3 linked regions of the Homo sapiens genome follow. The protein of the gene in region 3 purifies or fractionates together with the protein of the main gene of each other region. This does not show direct contact. Each region holds a gene or a part of one and is shown on either strand. Other genes may lie near its edges. The genes, in order: ARHGAP39, PABIR2 and SPIN2B.

Evidence for each region.
Region 1: the proteins of SPIN2B (region 3) and ARHGAP39 purify together in Homo sapiens (affinity purification with mass spectrometry; 3 studies listed by BioGRID and IntAct, with this or other methods). This does not show direct contact.
Region 2: the proteins of SPIN2B (region 3) and PABIR2 purify together in Homo sapiens (affinity purification with mass spectrometry; 3 studies listed by BioGRID and IntAct, with this or other methods). This does not show direct contact.

The regions. Positions count from the first base shown.
Region 1 is NC_000008.11:144,532,134-144,535,882, reverse strand, and holds part of ARHGAP39 (rho GTPase-activating protein 39), read left to right. Parts: intron 1-1,680; coding exon 1,681-1,754; intron 1,755-2,557; coding exon 2,558-2,757; intron 2,758-3,486; coding exon 3,487-3,578; intron 3,579-3,749.
Region 2 is NC_000023.11:134,783,528-134,787,276, reverse strand, and holds part of PABIR2 (PABIR family member 2), read left to right. Parts: intron 1-1,326; coding exon 1,327-1,391; intron 1,392-3,749.
Region 3 is NC_000023.11:57,119,578-57,123,326, reverse strand, and holds SPIN2B (spindlin-2B), read left to right. Parts: upstream 1-1,778; 5' UTR 1,779-2,089; exon of another isoform or gene 2,090-2,113; coding exon of another isoform or gene 2,114-2,246; intron 2,247-2,692; coding exon of another isoform or gene 2,693-2,697; coding exon 2,698-3,474; 3' UTR 3,475-3,645; downstream 3,646-3,749. UniProt on the Homo sapiens protein: Involved in the regulation of cell cycle progression, this activity is related to the inhibition of apoptosis following the removal of essential growth factors. Exhibits H3K4me3-binding activity.

The sequences.
Region 1 (3,749 bases), on a different chromosome or scaffold from region 3:
AGCACTGCAACAGACAGGCATTGTCACAGTCCCCATCCTACAGAGGAGTAAACTGAGGCACAGAGAGACTGCATTATGATCACCTTCATCAGCTGAGAGGCGGTGGCCCCAGTGTATCCCAGTCACAGAGTGTTGGAGGGTGTCCCAGTCCCAAGCAGGCTCAGGCTGGGGTGTTTGTCCCACCAGGGGCCTGGGGACAGGAGATCAGGGCCTGTCTTCCCGCAGGGACAGCAAGCAGGAGGCCCAGCCCTGCCGTCTGCCCCAGGCCCCCCAGCCTAGTGACTACATGTCCCAGCTGCTGAGCTGAGGCCCTGGGTTTCTGCCGCCTTCCTGCAAAGCTCATTCCCTCCTTGCCTTCTTGAGGCTCTGAAGCCTGGGTCCAGTGTGCGTGGGCACCATCCATTCTAGAAAAACAAGGGTACCTCATAGCCTGCCCAGAGGGGCCCTTGGTTCCACATGGTCCCACGCTGGAGGCTGGGGCCACATCCTCTGCCAAGACCTGTGGTCCCAAGGACCATGACAGATTTTCTAGGACCTAAACGTCTATGAAAAAAAAAATTCATTTTGGTTCCTCTAAAAAAGAGTCTCCTTAGCAGTCACATGTCAACTATTCTGTGATAATTAGAGATGGACTCAAGACACGTGTGCACTTTTTTTTAACCTGGTCCAAGGACCCCATGCCCTCAGCTGTCCACCAGAAACTGCTCCTTCAAAGAAGACAAAGGTGTTCCGATTGGGGGTCAGGATCCAGAGGCCCCCCTCACCCTGGCAGGCGGTAGGCGCTGGGCGCTGGGGCAGGTCTCATGTCCAGAAGCACAGGGTCCTGTCCATCTGTCCGAGGTCCATGGCTCCCCTGGCCCCAGACAGCTTCTCTTGGCGTGTTCTCTCATCTGCTGCTTCCCGACCTGGAGCAGGAAGGTGCCGCGCCTTCCAGACCCAGCCTGGGAATCCTCTCCCCTCTAGCACCTTCCCCTGGGCTCTGTGTCTGGAGACTCCCCAGGCTGAGGTCCCTGAGTCCCTCATCAGGTGCTGACTCAGGCACACTGCCCCTCCCCTCAGGGACCCTGCTGTCGGGCTGAGTTTTAGGAAGCCCCTCCTTTGAGAAAGGAGACTGGGCCCTCTCATTGCTGCCTCAGTCCTTCAGAAGAGCCCAGAGGTGGTACTTCAGGCCCAGGGCTGCAGCAGAGCTGGGCTTGCTGTGCAGATAGCTCAGTGCCTGCCTCCCCCAGCACTGGCTGCGGGTGCTGGGTAGGTGGAAATGACTCCTCCAGGGGCTCCTGCCCACAGCCTAAAAGCCAGGGAGGGGCCTGAAGCAGAGAAGAGTCAAATACCTGGACAGCTCCCTGGGTCAGGCCCCGGGGAGGGAGCAGTGGGGTCTAGAGGCCCTCAGACCCAGGTCCTGCCCTTCCTGTTCCTGCGTGGCCGTAGGAGGGCAGGTGGAGCTGCCAGGCGGTTCCTCCCAAGCCTGTCCCTCTGCAGGTGGGGAAGTGCTCCTTGGGCCTCTGCTCTAAAGGACACTGCCTGGGAGAGTGTGAGGACCCGCTGTGCTGGGCAGGGGGTGACCGGGGCAAGGCCAGCCCAGCCCCCCAGGGCCCTCGAAGGAGCTGTGTCTGCTCACCCCTCTCCTGGCCCCACACCCACACACCCACATCAGGCTGATCAGGCCCCTTTCCTTTCCAGGGGTGGCGATAAGCACGTATGCCAAGTACTGTTACCACAAGCTACAGAAGGCAGCCCTGACCGGGGCCAAGAAGGTACGGGTGCGCCTGGGGGGCCGGGGAGGGCAGGCGGGGACACAGAGACCCTTGGTGGACAGCCCCAGGAGCCCCGCCTGCAGTTTGGTATGGGGCAGCAGCGCAGAGGGTGCCACATGGAGCCCGCCTAGGCGGGTGGCGGGGTACGCTAGGCTGACCCCGTGTTCTTCTGGGCTGCACCCTCCCCCGGGGGCTCTTCCTGGGCCCGGACCCCCAGCTCAGGAGCAAGGCAGGCAACGGGCTCAGTCACACCGCACCACAGGGACAGGACCCCGTTCCCTGGACCTGTCCCAAGAGCCTGGCCCCTTCCCCACATCCTCTTCTCTCTGATGCGCTGCTCCCATCATACCCCTCCCCAGCGCTCTCAGCCCTGCCACAGACTTCTGGAAGTTTCACCCCAGCTCAGCTAGCTTGGCCTCTGCTGTGCTCCCCAACAGCCCTGGCCGGCCCAGGACTCACTCCCACCTTCCCAAGGGCCCCTGTGAGCTGGTGCTGTAGACGGTGACTCTGGCCAGGGAGCTGGGCTTGTCCGTAGCTCTAGTTGGAGCCAGGAGTTCACAGGGATGAGAGGAGGGGGAGGCAGAGCCAGGGGCAGCCCAGGAGGAGTTAGGGTTTGGGGGGCGAGGAGGGCTGGTCCAGGGATGGACAGTGGCCTGGGGAAACACCACACTCGGACCCAGGTGTGTGGGGCAGGAATTCTGAAGAGCGCCACCCACCTATGTTCGGGGAAAGAAGACAACCGGGGTGGCGGGGGGTCCTGAGGATGGCCAGGCCAGACCAGGACGGAGCCTCTGTCTTCACAGGGGCTGAAGAAGCCCAACGTGGAGGAGATCCGGCATGCCAAGAACGCCGTGTTCAGCCCGTCCATGTTCGGCAGCGCACTGCAGGAGGTCATGGGCATGCAGAGAGAGCGCTACCCCGAGCGCCAGCTGCCCTGGGTGCAGACACGGCTCTCTGAGGAGGTGCTGGCGCTCAACGGTGACCAGACAGAGGGCATCTTCAGGTGCCACGGCAACCCCGGGCGCCGGGTGTGGGGGCCACAGCCATGTGTCCACCATGCATCTGTGGCATGCAGGGGCCATTAAGCCTCAGGCCCACTGGGCTGCTTCCGCACCCATACCTGAGAGCAGATGGAAGGGTGGGGCCACAGTGTGGAAGCTGACCCTGAGGGTGTGCAGGCCAGGAGAGAGGGCAGGACCCATTCCAAAGAGGCAGCACAGCCAGCCAGGGAGGGCGCCCCTGCAGAGACGGCCACCAGGGGTCCAGAGCGTGCTTGGACACCAGCCATGGGTAGCCTGGAGTGGGAGCCTCAGATGACAGGCAGCCCTTGTCTGTGAACAGGGATGGCACAGGGTGCCACCCACTCCCATGACTCACCTGTCAGGGCAAGGGGTACCCAGGCCCCAGGAGGGCAGCTGGGGAAACTGAGGCTTGCAGGTTGAGCCCCAGTGGCCCTTTGGTGAGGGCATCCACCCAGGGAGCCAGCAGGGGTCCAGGGAGGGACGGTGGCCTGGGGAAGCACCACACTCGGACGCAGGTGTGTGGGGCAGGAATCCTGAAGAGCGCCACCCACCCACGTTCGTGGGAAAGAGGCCAACCGGGGTGGCGGGGGGTCCTGAGGTTTTGCTCCCCTCCCCGGGTCAGCAGGGGCCTACCGGAGGGAGTGTCCAGGCGGAATCATGAAGCCGCAGCACAGGCTCCTGTTGCCTGAGACCTGCCCTGTGCCCTGCAGGGTCCCTGGGGACATTGACGAGGTGAATGCCCTGAAGCTGCAGGTGGACCAGTGGAAGGTGCCCACAGGCCTGGAAGACCCCCACGTCCCTGGTGAGTCCCCCACACACGCTGCAGCAGAGCGGGCCTGGCTCAGGCAGTGGTTCTCAGGGGCCCCTGTCTCCGCCTCTGGGGTCCACCCTGATCCTGCCCAGTGATGTGATGGCTTCCCAGTCACTTCTAGCACATCCTCCCTTCTGCCCATTGGACAGTTTCCCCAGGTGT
Region 2 (3,749 bases), about 78 Mb from region 3:
AATAGAAAAATTAGCTGGGCCTGGTGGCAGGCGCCTGTAATCCCAGTTACTCGGGAGGCTGAGGCAGGAGAATCGCTTGAACCAAGCAGGCGGAGGTTGCAGTGAGCTGAGATCGCACCATTATACTCCAGCCTGGGCAACAGAGCAAAAACTCTGTCTCAAAAAAAAAAAAAAAAAGAAGATTAACTCTTTTTCCCAATATTTCACTGTGAAATTTTCAGACATCAAAAGTGAAAGAATTTCACAGTGAACAACCATATACCCACTGCCTATAATCTACCATTAACATTTTAACCAGAGTTTTTTCTTTTCTTTTTTTTTGTATTTGAGGTGGAATCTCACTCTGTCGCCAGGCTAGAGTGCAGTAGTGTGATCTCAGCTCACTGAAACCTCTGCCTCCTGGGTTCAAGCATTTCTCTTCCCTCAGCCTCCCAAGTAGCTGGGATTACAGGCATGCGCCACCACCCTCGGCTAATTTTTGTATTTTTAGTAGAGATAGGGTTTCACCATGTTGGCCAGGATGGTCTCAATCTCTTGACCTCGTGCCCTCCTCGGCCTCCCAAAGTACTGGGATTACAGGCGTGAGCCACAGCGCCCAGCCCCAGAGTTTTTTAGGGGGAATTTAATGCTGATTTATATTTAGTGGGGAAAGACACACATACATACCCCCCACAATAATACATCCTTTTTAAGAATAAGGAAAAAATGTTAAAGTTCATAGATCAATCAAATCCAAATTACTTTATTTATTTATTTTTGCGACGGAGTTTTGCTCCTGTTGCCCAGGCTGGAGTGCAATGGTGCGATCTCAGCTCACTGCAACCTCTGCCTCCCGGGTTCAAGTGATTCTCCTGTCTCAGCCTCCTGGGTAGCTGGGATTACAGGCATGCACCACCACGCCTGGCTAATTTTTTGTGTTTTTAGTAGAGATAGAGTTTCACCATGTTGGTCAGGCTGGTCTCGAACTCCTGACCTCAGATGATCTGCTTACCTTGACCTCTCAAAATGCTGGGATCACAGGCGTGAGTCACTGCGGCCCAGCCCCAAAATACTTTTTAAATAGGGTATCTTTTTTTCTTTAAACTGTTGGGGGTATTTTGTCATATAGAATATTTTTTAAAGGACTTAAAATGCTGTATTATTCCAGGTTGCCATATGCTGGTTCAAATCATGTATTGGATTTCAGTTACTCAATTACAGAAGAATTTTCCATTTCAGTCATTGATAAGATTGTCCATTTTATTTATGTATTTGTTGGGCTGGACTGCTGTTTTATCTTGCATCGTGGATGTTCTTCACATTATCCTGTTTGTTTTTTCATCAAAGCAGGAGAAGTCAGAGTCCAGTCAAGTGCATTAGACCCAGTGTTCTTGGTCCTCTTAAAAGAAAAGGTATGTAGCAGCGTGGTGACTATAGCTAATGCTACTGTGTCACATACTTGAAATTTGCTAAGAAAGTAGATCTTAAGTGTTCTTACCACACACATACGAAAGGTAACTAGGTGAAGCAAAAGATGTGTTAAAAACTTGACCGTGGGCTGGGCATGGTGGCTCACGCCTGTAATCCCAATACTTTCGGAGGCCGAGGCAGGTGGATCGCCTCGGGTCAGGAGTTTGAGACCAGCCTGGCCAATATGACAAAATCCCATCTCTACTAAAAATACAAAAATTAGCTGGGCGTGGTGGCAGGTACCTGTAATCCCAGCTACTTGGGAGGCTGAGGCAGGAGAATCGCTTGAACTTGGGAGGCGGAGGTTGTGGTGAGCTGAGATCGTACCACTGCACTCCAGCCTGGGCAACAGAGTGACACTCCATCTCAAAAAAAAAAAAATTGACTGTGATCATCATTTCACAGTATGTACATACATCAGATCATCACATTGTATACCTTAAATATATATAAATTTATTTGTCATTTATACTTCAGTAAAGCTGGGGGGAAAAAGAAAAAGATAAGCATCACGCTTCTGGTCTTATACCTAGCCAAGCTTGAATTAAAAACTAGAACTCCTGTCTGAAATGAGCTAACAGCATTGCTCTCTTGTGTTCTAGGGAAACTCAAAAGTATTCTTCCAAATGTTTGCTGTGCTGATTCTCAATTTTGTAAATGAGTTATTTGATACATCTATATTTTCTTATACTTCATAACAGTTTTATTCATATATTCATATTATCATTATATATTCAAAAAATTGCCTCTCTGTTATCTAAATATGAAAGAGATGCATAGTTTATAAACTGCAGAAATATATGCTAATGCCGTAGCAAACATATCCATAAATGTGCTGTATACTCAAATATAAGGTAAGGTTTACCCCCTCATCAAATTATGCCTCATCAAAGCAAGAATTGCCTTATATTCAATTCTATGGAGTTTTTTATATAACAGGGTGCTCTCAGTTACCTTATTTTGAACCACAAAGCAGTAGGCTAAAATAGTTTAGTTTAGTATCAGTCAACACTAGTGTTAGATGCTTATAAAGGGCACCTGATGGCATCTCTTTAAAAAGGCAATACAGGTCTGTAATACCAGCACTTTGGGAGGCCGAGACAGGAGAATTGCTTTGAGCTCAGGAGTTTGAGACCAGCCTAGGCAACATGGCAAAACCACGTCTCTACAAAAAATACAAAAATTAAGCAGGCGTTGGTGGCTTGTGCTGTTGTCACAGCTACTTGGGAGGGTGAGGCTGGAGAATTCCTTGAGCCCAGGAAGCAGAGGTTGCAGTGAGCCGAGATGGCAGCCTGGGCCACAGAGTGAGACCCTGTCTCAAAAAAAAAAAAAAGCAACACAGGTTTTTGTTTGTTTTTTTTGAGACCGAATTTCGTTCTTGTTGCCCAGACTCTGGAGTGTAGTGGCGTGATCTTGGCTCACTGCAACCTCCACCTCCTGGGCTCAGCGATTCTCTTGCCTCAGTCTCCCGAGTAGCTGGGATTAGAAGCACCCACCACCACCACGCCTGGCGAATTTTCTGTATTTTTAATAAAGGCAGAGTTTCACCATATTGGTCTTGAACTCCTGACCTCAGATGATCCACCTGCCTCGGCCTCCCAAAGTGCTGGGATTACAGGTATGAGCCACCACGCCCAGCCGGCAACACAGGTTTATTCATTATTCCTGGGGATATGACTACATGATTGCAAGTGTCAACGTGTCATTTTAAACGAGTCTTAACAATAACTTTTTTTTTTTTTTTTTTGAGGCAAGGTCTTGCTCTGTCACCCATGCTGGAGTGCAGTGGTGCAATCTCAGCTCACTGCAACCTCTGCCTCCTGGGCTCCTGGGTTCAAGCGATTCTCCTGCCTCAGCCTCCCAAGTACCTGGGATTACAGGAGTACACCACCATGGCCAGCTAATTTTTGTATTTTTAGTAGAGACAGGGTTTCGCCATGTTGGCAACACTGTCCTCAAACTCCTGGCCTCAAGTGATCCACCTGCCTTGGCCTCCCAAATTGCAGGGATTACACAGGTATGAGCCACCATGCCCAGCCATTAACAATAACTTTTTTTTTTTAATTGAGACCAGTCATTAACAATAACTTTTTTTTTTTAATTGAGACGGAGTCTTGCTCTGTCACCCAGGCTGGAGTGCAGTGGTATGATCTTGGCTCACTGCAACCTCCGCCTCCTGGGTTCAAGTTATTCTTCTGCCTCAGCCTCCCAAATAGCTGGGATTACAGGTGCACACCACCACGCCCAGAGAATTTTGTATTTTTAGTAGAGATGGGGTTTTGTCATGTTGGCCAGGCTGG
Region 3 (3,749 bases):
TGTCCTTTGTAGGGACATGGATGAAGCTGGAAACCATCATTCTCAGCAAACTATCGCAAGGACAAAAAACCAAACACCGCATGTTCTCACTCATAGGTGGGAATTGAACAATGAGAACACATGGACACAGGAAGGGGAACATCACACAATGGGGCCTCTTGTGAGGTGGGGGTAGGGGAGAGGGATAGCATTAGGAGATATACCTAATGTAAATGAGGAGTTAATGGGTGCAGCACACCAACATGGCACACGTATACACATGTAACTAACCTGCACATTGTGCACATGTACCCTAGAACTTAAAATATAATTTAAAAAAATAAAAATGAAAATAAAATAAAAAGCCCTCACTGAAACTATGACATATCTGCAAATTGCTTTCCATAAAAATTGTATAAACTTTCACTTGCATCAGCACTAGATATGAAGCTTTTTCATGATCAATGACATTAAGTAATATTTTAATGTTCTTTCATACTTTGACTGTTGAATCGAGATTATTATTACTTCTATTTTTCCTTGTAGATGTTATTTTATTAAGTGTAGTTGTTCTGTTAACATCCGACTCATCCCCTCATTCAAATACCATAAGTATCTGAATAAGAAAGATACCATTAAGCATTGTTTTGTTTACAGAGTTTTTGGTTGGTTCATTTGCTTTCTGTTCAATTTTATTTTGCTGCTTTTTACCTTTTAATAAATCAAATATTGATACTGGTACAACATTAGTATACAACCTTTCTCAAAATATTTAAATAATTATTTCAACATTCCTTAAAGAATACCCAACGTTTCTCCACTGATTTATAAAACTATAACTTTAATTATTTCTTATAAAGTTATTTTTTTGCAAAGCTTTCTATTCCGATACATAGATCTGATTACTGGTTATTGTGGAAATATTATGTCAAATGCCCAGTACTGGGAGAAAAGCCAAATTATAAATCACTTTAAAATTGAGTTTTACGGACCAAGTGCAAGATATGTAACAGGTGCTCAATAAATATTTGTTGAATGAAAAAATCGATTAGAAAACATCTAATTTCCTGGAAAAATTAATAGACATGAATTGCAGATAAAAAACAAATCCCAGTTTTGCAAAAGTTTAGGAAAAAGGAAAAAAAACTATGAGCATTAATATTTTGCTGTGAGGCCCTCAAAAATGGGAGATGGGACTGCAGTTGATGATTTTCCTCTTAATATTAATTTCCTAAAATGTAGATAGTGTTCACGTTGTACATGCAATTATCTTGCAATAAAGAAAAGGAAAAAAAAATCCCTCGAAAACAAAAACAAAAATGCCAGGAAATATCAGTCAGCAAAAATTAGGTAGAGACTGGGTCAAAATGGCAGACTTACCATAGTGAATTTCTCTGTTCCAACTCCAAATCCTTTCAAAAAGAGGAAAGACATATTTACGTGTAAAGAATAAATCCATAAGGGCATGGGACGGTGCAGGGGCAGGGGTGGGCGCGGGGGTGGGCGCGGGGCGGCAGCAAGGCGAATTCCAAGAAGATGGAAAGCAGGGCAGGCAGACTAAGAAGGTGGAGGTGGGAACCAAGTGGCCCTGAAACGGGTGAGGAAGGGGCCACAGGGTTCCGAGGACGACTGTGGCACGAACTACTCCGGATTTGGAAAGAGGCGGAGTCAGAGCCCATAGCTCCGCCGGGGCTACAGGCTGTGTGGTGGGCGTGGGAGCCTGGTGGAGAGGAGAGCCGGGTGTTTGACAGGAAGAGGAGGCCTCTCTCTGGGCAGGAAGCTGCGCTACGGAAAGAGGGAGGAGACTGCCGCGGCGACAGCAGGGACTGGTGGAATCCCGATGTGGCTGAGGGGCCGCCACCGCCAGCAGGGAGGCGGAGGGCTAGCGAGCCAAGCGGTGGGGACGCCGCTGCCTTCCTCTTTGCCTGTCTCGCCGCCCTCCTAGACACGCTCCTCATCTACGGATCCTACCCTCCCCGCTCTTGCAAGCATTCACTCGGCCGGTCGCCTGCTGACCCTCCTTCGCCACAGGCTCGTAGCGGAGGCAGCAGCGAGGTGTCCGATTTGGGCACGTGAGGCCCGCGATCCCCGGCGGTGGACGCCAGGCAGGGCAAGGCCATTAGTGGGCGCCAGAATGGAGAGGGGGATGGGAAGGAATCCAGCAGGAGACATGGGGTGGAGTTGGGCGCCAGGCAAGGGTGGGGTGGGGGAGTGCGGTGAGCAACATGAAAAGGGGGTAGGAACGGGAGCCAGACAAGGATTTGAAGGTGAGCGCCGGGAAGCAAGGGCGGTGGGTACCAGAGAAGTGGTTAGGGTAGGCAGGGGGTGTTGTGGACAGCAGCTGGGACGCTCAGGGAAGGAGGGCAGTGGGTGCCGGTCAAGGCCTCTTTGCAAGGGGATTGGAAGTGGACGCCAGTGGTAGCAAGGGGTTCCGGGAGGGCAGTGGGCTCTGAGCTAGGAGGAGGTGGCCCAGCCACTTCTGCAGAGTTCCTAACCCCAGACAGCTCTACTGCACCACCCCAGCCCTTCCCCACAGCCCAAAGGAACTTAAGAGGGAGAGCACTGCGGGCATGCAGCCAGGATTTCCAGCATTGCTTCCAGGCTCCTAGGGGAAACTTAGGCACTAGCGCAGACTACATCCAGACATGGCTATAGGGAAAAGTTTGCCTTGTGGCACACTGGGTGTGTCTCTCTATCCTCTCTCCTCCCCCAGCAGGCATGAAGACCCCCAACGCACAGGAAGCCGAAGGGCAACAAACCAGGGCAGCTGCAGGACGGGCCACTGGGTCTGCAAACATGACAAAGAAAAAAGTCTCCCAAAAGAAGCAGAGAGGCCGACCTTCATCCCAGCCCCGCAGGAACATCGTGGGCTGCAGAATTTCTCATGGATGGAAGGAAGGAGATGAGCCCATCACGCAGTGGAAAGGAACCGTTCTGGATCAGGTGCCTATAAATCCCTCTCTTTATCTGGTGAAATATGATGGAATTGACTGTGTCTATGGACTGGAACTTCACAGAGATGAAAGGGTTTTGTCTCTTAAAATTCTTTCTGACAGGGTGGCATCATCTCACATTAGTGATGCCAACCTTGCAAATACCATAATTGGCAAAGCAGTGGAACATATGTTTGAGGGAGAGCATGGTTCTAAGGATGAATGGAGGGGGATGGTCTTAGCTCAAGCACCTATCATGAAAGCCTGGTTTTATATTACCTATGAGAAAGATCCTGTCTTGTACATGTACCAGCTTCTAGATGATTATAAGGAAGGTGACCTCCGCATCATGCCAGAATCCAGTGAGTCTCCTCCAACAGAGAGGGAGCCAGGAGGAGTTGTAGATGGCCTAATAGGTAAGCATGTGGAATATACCAAAGAAGATGGCTCCAAAAGGATCGGCATGGTCATTCACCAAGTGGAAGCCAAACCCTCTGTGTATTTCATCAAGTTTGATGATGATTTCCATATCTATGTCTACGATTTGGTGAAAAAGTCCTAACTGTTAGGGTAAAATTTGGCACATGTGTGGAAACAAATGTATAATTTGTAGACATGCAAAAAATGTTGCCTTTCAGTGTATTGAAAGCTTATGGAATCCCTGATAACTAAACATCTTTGCCAGCATTAACTGTTGTTTTGCTCTAAAAAATACAAACTTGTGTGTACATGACATGCTGTGTGTAAGCCCTTTGTCTTGTTGAAAAGATCGGGTGTGTTTGGTGAATGGGGCATGAAAAGAAGGAACAGCTATCAGAGAGCTTGTGGCTTAGAGGA